Homo sapiens: one gene and its partner. The protein of the gene in region 1 interacts with the protein of each later gene in a pairwise test. Each region holds a gene or a part of one and is shown in the gene's direction. Other genes may lie near its edges. The genes, in order: RAP1A and PDE6D.

Evidence for each region.
Region 2: the proteins of RAP1A (region 1) and PDE6D interact in a two-hybrid assay, tested with the Homo sapiens proteins (2 studies listed by BioGRID).

Annotation. Positions count from the first base shown.
Region 1 is NC_000001.11:111,622,789-111,626,288, forward strand, and holds part of RAP1A (ras-related protein Rap-1A precursor), read left to right. Parts: intron 1-3,500. UniProt on the Homo sapiens protein: Counteracts the mitogenic function of Ras, at least partly because it can interact with Ras GAPs and RAF in a competitive manner. Together with ITGB1BP1, regulates KRIT1 localization to microtubules and membranes.
Region 2 is NC_000002.12:231,739,564-231,743,595, reverse strand, and holds part of PDE6D (retinal rod rhodopsin-sensitive cGMP 3',5'-cyclic phosphodiesterase subunit delta), read left to right. Parts: intron 1-2,489; exon of another isoform or gene 2,490-2,639; coding exon of another isoform or gene 2,640-2,717; intron 2,718-4,032. UniProt on the Homo sapiens protein: Promotes the release of prenylated target proteins from cellular membranes. Modulates the activity of prenylated or palmitoylated Ras family members by regulating their subcellular location.

The DNA of each region.
Region 1 (3,500 bases):
TGCTAATTGTTGGATACAGAGATGAATTAGACAGGGTCTCTGCCCTCAGGGAGTTTCACAGTCTGTCATTGTTTGTATTGTAATAGTTAAGTTACTCCAGATCTTGCCAGTGTTTAGTTTTACCCATGAACTTTAGTGTATGGTTGATGATATTTTATATAAAATAGGGATTAGACATCCAGATTTTCATGTTGGTAATTGTTTTTTTTCCTTACAAAGGGATATGTTTAAAAATTAAATTTTTTTTGAGACGGAGTCTTGCTCTGTCATCCAGCCTGGTGTGCAGTGGTGCAATCTTGGCTCACTGCAACCTCTGCCTCCTGGGTTCAAGCGATTCTCCTGTCTCAGCCTCCCCAGTAGCTGGGATAACAGGTACCCACCACCACGCCCAGATAATTTTTTTTTTTTTTAATCGTTAGTAGAGACGAGGTTTCCCCATGTTGGCCAGGCTGATCTCAAACTCCTGACCTCAAGTGATCCAGCCACCTTGGCCTCCAAAAGTGTTGGGATTACAGGTGTGAGCTACTGTGGCTGGCAACAAAGGAATTTTTAATGGTATCTGTAATTTGTTTAATTTCTGTTTTGTATGATGCTTTTAGAATATTATAGCTGTGACCGCCCCATGTTTTGTTCTTTGAGACAGAGTCTTGCTCTGTCACCCAGGCTGGAGTACAGTGATGTGATCTTGGCTCACTGCAACCTCTGCCTCCGAGGTTCAAGGGATTCTCCTGCCTTAGCCTCCTGAGTAACTGGGATTACAGGCACGTGCCACCACACCCGGCTAATTTTTGTATTTTTTTTTAGTAGAGAGAGAGTTTCACCATGTTGGTCAGGCTGGTCTTGAACTCCTGACCTCATGATCCGCCCGCCTCAGCCTCCCAGAATGCTGGACTCCTGCGGCTGAGACTATTGTTTTTGTTAAATAGGTCAACATTGAAATTTTATTTGGTTTATAGGGGATGACGACACCAGCCAGTTTTGATAGAAAACTATACCACTGTGAGGGCTTTGCCCAGAATTTCTGGTTCTGGAACCTAGATGGCTTGATTTGGCATAGGTGGGGAGCTTTGACATCTACACAAGGGAGTGGGTTGAATCACTTGAGTTACTTGAAAGCACCTTGCTCTGTTTCTGACATGTGATAGGGACACCGTAAATGTTCATTGAACCTCAGATCACTTCTAATCTCGTGATTCTAAAATTCTCTTATTTTAGTTGGTCAATGAAAATAACTAATGTAAAGCATTTATATTTTAATATTGGAATACATTTGAAATTGTGAATGTAAGTTTACTCGTTTATAATGTCCCTTTTCAAATTAATTGGTTATAACAATTAATTGATTACATCTAATCATTTGTAAGAAGAGTTACGGCCTATTTCCAAGAATTTTTTGCTTATTCTGATGTCATATAATTGCTGCATTACTTAATGCCAGATTCATATCTTATGAAAAAGATTAGCATTAAACAAAAATATTTAAGCTTTAGTATGTTACTGAGACAGATGAAGTGTCCATTTTTTCTTTTATTGTGTGCATGAAGTATGGGGATTACAAGCAGTAGTTTTTATGTGCTTTTTAGTTTTTCATATACAAAGATAATGTTAATATTAGCTCATTTACATTTTGAAACTTTTGTAATAGTGGTATAGATTTGCACTGCATAATTCACATTCTCTCAGTCTCCTGCACACAGTTGTGAGATGACTGGTTAAGAGGGCACTTTGTTTCAAAGTTAAATGATCCAGATGAGTATTGAACCTATAAGCTTAGCTTTGTTCATTATCATGAGGTTCTGATCAACAAAGCAGTTCAACAGAGAACCATGCCATGCTGTCATTTCTGCTTGAAAATAAGCCTTTTAGAGGTAGAAGGTACAAACATGCATATACACATGCACCAATAAAAAAAGGAAATTGTGTATGGTTATTAAGGTAGAGTTGAAACAGGAAATAACGTGCGTTTATAAGTGGTTTAAAAATAATTCTTTTAATAAAATTTTCAGAAATACTTGATATACGCATGGAAAATTAAATGTTTTATGAAATAAACTCCAATCAGTAGACAAGTTAATGGCTTTTTTAAAAGCACTAATGACTTATTTACTTAGGCTATATAAATTTAGGTTAGATAAATCTGAAAAAAAAATTCTTTATAAATCACTCAAATTTTCCCAGTGTTTCTTACCTCTAACCTATTTAGTTTACACTGGTAGAGTGGTTCAAAGTGTTAAAGTTAACCAAATTTAAAATTAAATGTGTAATCATATGTTTTAGTGTCCGAATGTATTTAAATTAGGCCATATTTCATAAGAATAGCAGTATATTAAACTAAAAAAGCTAATAAAAGATACTATTGGGTTAATTAAAACTTGAAGTGCCTTACCTTGAACACCTAGGTGTATACGCCTATAACATGTTACTCCTTCACGGTTTTTTGCAGTGCAGTGCTGTACCCACTTATTCTGGAGGTAAAAGATAATTTTGTTCATGATAGGACTGTGGTTAGCTGTCTTTCGTTTTTTAACTGTTTTCTTTTTTTTTTGTTTTGTTTTTGTCTTTAGAAAAGACAAAACTATAAAAAGAGGCACAAAGAACTGAATACAACTATTTGGACATATCCCAAATGCAGTTTATATGACTCTAAGTTAGTAGTGGAAATCTCTTATTGCTGACTATACATTTCAGATATGTCAGATGTGTAATCCAGAGAGTAAATTCACTCACTGTATTTTCAGTGATATTTTAAAATTCATTTATCAGTAGGATCATTCTGTTCTAGACAAGTTGGCTATATTATAAAACATTAAGCAAGCAGGCACTAAGTTAAATATTGTAGCAGTTGAAATTTAATGCTAATCTTACAGTTTTACACAGTTAACAATCTAGGCCAAATCTATTGATACCTTTGGAACTACCCTTTAAATTCCATCCTATGCTTGTGAAAAGGTTGCATATAATTTCTTTTCCTTTTTCTCTCTTCTCTTCCTCTTCTTTTTTCTTTTTCTTTTTCTATTTCCCTTTTCTTCCTTTTTCTTTCACAGAGTCTTGCTATATCACCCACGCTGTTCTCCACCTCCTGGGCTCAAGCTATCCTCCCACTTCAGCCTCCTGAGTAGCTGGGACTACAGGCGTGTGCCACCACAGTTAATTCATAATTTCATTAATAGATTTCAGATTCAGTCATTGAACAGATGTTTAAGTAACCCCAAATTAGGCTCTTTGATGGATACTGAGATGTGAAGGTGTAGTTTCTGCTTAAAGGAATTTATAGTCTAGCAGTTTATTTTGTTTGCCACAGCCTGTCATGTGTTTTATAAATCAGTGTTGTATTTTCATGATAGAGTGAAAATAGAATGATACTCATTTTTTAAGTAAAATAAATTGTGAACATTTCACATTCTCTTAGTTGGTGAACAGCTATTTTGGTGGTCTTGTTTTCTAACAGCTTATGAGTATTAGACCAAATCAGTTTCCCAGTTGTTTAAAATAGAGTTAAA
Region 2 (4,032 bases), on another chromosome or scaffold:
AGAATGACACAGCCAATGTGATCTGAAAGCGACAGTACATTCATGCAGGGATGCCCACAAGCAGGTTGAGTGCACAGAAAGATAGACTCCTCATCACATTGCAGGCACTCTGCTGAATAACCCTTTGTTATATTTTGAGACTTTTCTTTTTTTTTTTTTTTTTTTTTGAGACGGAATCTTGCTCTGTCGCCAGGCTGGAGTGCAGTACATGATCTTGGCTCACTGCTCACTGCAACCTCCGCCTCCTCTGTTCAAGCGATTCTCCTGCCTCAGCCTCCTGATTAGCTGGGACTACAGGCGCACACCACCACGCCCAGCTAATTCTTGTATTTTTAGTAGAAACGGGGTTTCACCATGTTGGCCAAGATGGTCTTGATCTCTTGACCTCGTGATCCGCCCGCCTCGGCCTCCAAAAGTGCTGCAATTACAGGCGTGAGCCACGACGCCCAGCCGAGACTTTTCTCGTATAGCAGCAAAACCTAGACAGAATCTCTCCAGAGGGTAAAATATAGTGTTATTACACACATGATGATTCCAGTCAGCTGTGTTGTTTAGGGTTCTTCACTGCAAGCTATTCAAACAATGGGAAAGGGTATCTGAGGCTTTTGGAGCTGCCTGGAAGTTGAAGGACAGGGTCTGTAGCAAAGACCACACAGTAGGAAAGGGCAGGTTGGCATGCCCCTGCTGCCCCCACCCTGAAGAACTTCCAACTCCCTCGAAAGTCCTGTAGCTTCAGGACCCCAGAACTGGGTAGCACGTGTCCAAGGCTAGGCCTTCTTGTGCTCACCCCTGATTATGCCAGGGCTGGGAGAAAAGGATCTGGCCTTTCTAGCTGCTGTAGTGCAAAGCAGTCACTGCCTTCCACAAGGTAGAGACTCTCTTCTTTGGGAAGAGAGTCTGATCACAAGATAGCAAAAAAAGAAAACCAAAAAAAAGACACATGTAAACTATATCTATATTATACATATATTTATCTGCAGCTCAGTCTCTTCGCAAATATTAACGATCTTTTGCAGACAGCCTCTGTGCTTGCATAATGTTAATTTTCTTTTCCTTTAATGGTTTGTCAATTGTTTTTTAAAACAAAACAAAAAAAACCTTAGCACTCTCTTCTTAAAGTTAGTCTTTATTTTTATTAAGTTGTATGTGTTCATCATTTAAAGAATCATAGTCAGCCGGGCAAGGTGGCTCACACCTGTAATCGCAGCACTTTGGGAGGCCAAGGCAAGCGGATCACCTGAGGTCGGGAGTTTGAGACCAGCCTGAACAACATGGAGAAACCCCATCTCCAGTTAAAAATACAAAAATTAGCCGGGCATGGTGGTGCATGCCTGTAATCCCAGCTACTCAGGAGGCTGAGGCAGGAGAATTGCTTGAACCCAGGAGGTGGAGATTGCAGTGAGCCAAGATCATGCCATTGCACTCCAGCCTGGGCAACAAGAGCGAAACCATCTCAAAAAAAAAACAAAAAACACAGTCTATCTAGTTTCTAATGAAGAGCACCACTCCCTGTCCCCCTATTTTCTACTCCCCAGAGAAAACTATTTTCAATCCTTTTTAGCTTATTTATTTGGTATTCATCTTGGTATTTCTAAAAAGCAAAATGTGGCTATGTCGTAATGTTTCCATTTTAGCATTATTTATCCACTTTCCACTACGGAAAATGACAGTTTTGTTGTTTCTCAACATTTCGTGCCTGACTATCCAGATATACATACTCTTGTTCCCCCATCCTCCCAGGTAAATTATATTGGGTGTTAGCATGTGCTTTCATTGTTATGACCATATCAGCACTACTTGCAATGAAGCCATGAGTTATACTATGACTACTTTTTTCTTCCAGTACTACCTTTAATTTTTCTTGATGTCAGTACTTGGATTTTTGTCATTTGCTTAGATTTTCTGTGCTTCTCATGAATTTGACCCCAAAATCTCCCTCTAATTGTATAAATCTCCTTTCCATATAAACACACTAGGTATTCTATGAATTTTATCTTTTTAAAAGAAAATCTCTTCCTGAGCTTTGTGACCTGCTCTAGCCTGGACCCTGGACTAGTCACTCTCCAGACCTGTTAAAGAGCTATTGTCTTGGGATCTTCCTTCACTGTCACTCAGGGGACTCCCTTCAGCTGTTTCTTGCTTGCTATATCCCATGTCATCCCCTTTCTTGGTTTTCTCTGTCATTTTGATGAAGCCATATTTTCCTTAGTTTCTTAAGAAAGCAAATATTTTTTAGTTTGTTTCAGGAATTGTTTCCCTGAAAATTTTAAAGGCCCTGCTAAGTTGTCTCCTACCCTCCAGGGTTCCTTTTGAATTTGATTTATTCTGATTTTTTTTCCTATTCTGATTTGACCCTTTGTATAATGACTTGTTTAACCTCTGGAAGCTTTTCGCTTTTCTTTATCTTTGATATTCTGTAAATGCACTAATGATGTGACTTGGGCATTTGCTACACCCTTTTTTTTTTTTTTTTTTTTTTTTTGAGACAGGGTTTCGCTCTTGTTGAGGCTGGAGTGCAATGGCGCAATCTCCCGGGTTCAAGTGATTCTCCTGCCTCAGCCTCCTGAGTAGCTGGGATTACAGGCAGGCACCACCACGTCTGGCTAATTTTGTGTTTTCGGTAGAGATGGGGTTTCTCCATGTTGGTCAGGCTGGTCTCGAACTCCCGACTTCAGGTGATCCGCCCGCCTCAGCCTCCCAAAGTGCTGGGATTACAGGTGAGCCATCGCTCCTGGCCTAGACACTTTCCATCTACGAAATTTTCTTGAATTAATTTATTGATGCCATCCTCCCCTCTGTTCTCTCTGTTCTACCTTTCTAGAACTTCTATTAGTTAGACACTAGAACTCTTGGACTATTCTTGGACTATAAGTTTTTGTGCCTTTACTCTCCTTTTTTTTTTTTTTTTTTTTTTTGAGACAGGGTCTCCCTCTGTCGCCCAGGCTGGAGTGCAGTCGCATGATCTCGGCTCACTGCAGCATTGATTTTGTGGACTCAGGCAATCCTCTCACCTCAGCCTCCAGAGTAGCTGGGACCACAGGCATGCACCACCATGACTTGTTAATTTTGTATTTTTGTAGAGATGGGGTTTCACCATGTTTCCCAGGCTAATCTCAAACTCCTGAGCTCAAGGAATCCACCCACCTCAGCCTCCCAAAGTGCTGGAATTACAGGTGTGAGCCACCACACTCAGCCTGCTCTCCTGTTTTCTATCCTTGCCTTTTTCGTTCTGAAAGCTTTCTTCAATTTTGTCTTTGTGTTGAGTTGTTTGGTTCTGCTATCAAAATATATGTGTTTCTAGAGTTCTTTTTTGTTCTCTGAATATTCTTTTTTAAATTGGTATTATTGACTCATTTAATGTATGAAACAATACAGAAACTAGAAAATATAAATACTTATGTTAGAAGGCATTTTCTGACAGAGAACATCAGTTAACCAGCTTCATAAGTTGTAACCTCAAACCAGAGAAATTCACCTAAAATATACAGAATTTTATTATATTAATTTTTAGTGTCTGTAAAGGTTATGTCTTATCTCTCTTTTTTAATGCTCCTTTTTAAAACTTATGTCTTTATCTGTAAGCCTCTTTATTCTTCTAAGTTACTTTTTTCTTTTAGTTTGTTTTGGTCTGTCTTTCATAATAAATGCTTTCTTAAATTTCTGTTGATACTTGGCTATCTTCTCATATTTAAAAACAGGGCACTCAGAGGCTGAGGCAGACAGATCACTTGAGGTCAGGAGTTCGAGACCAGCCTGGCCAACATGGTGAAACCCCATCTCTATTAAAAATACAAAAATAAGCTGGGCTTGGTGACGTGCTCCTATAATTCCAGCTACTCAGGAGGCTGAGGCACAAGAATTGCTTGAACCAAGGAGATGAAGGTTGTAGTGAGCCGAGATTGTGCCACTGCATTCCAGCCTGTGTGACAGAGTGAGACTCTGTTTCAAAAAAAAAAAACAGAGGGGGCCACTACAAAGCAATTTGAGAGTTCTGTGCTTGTGGGTGAAGTTTATGGACTGTGGCATTCACTA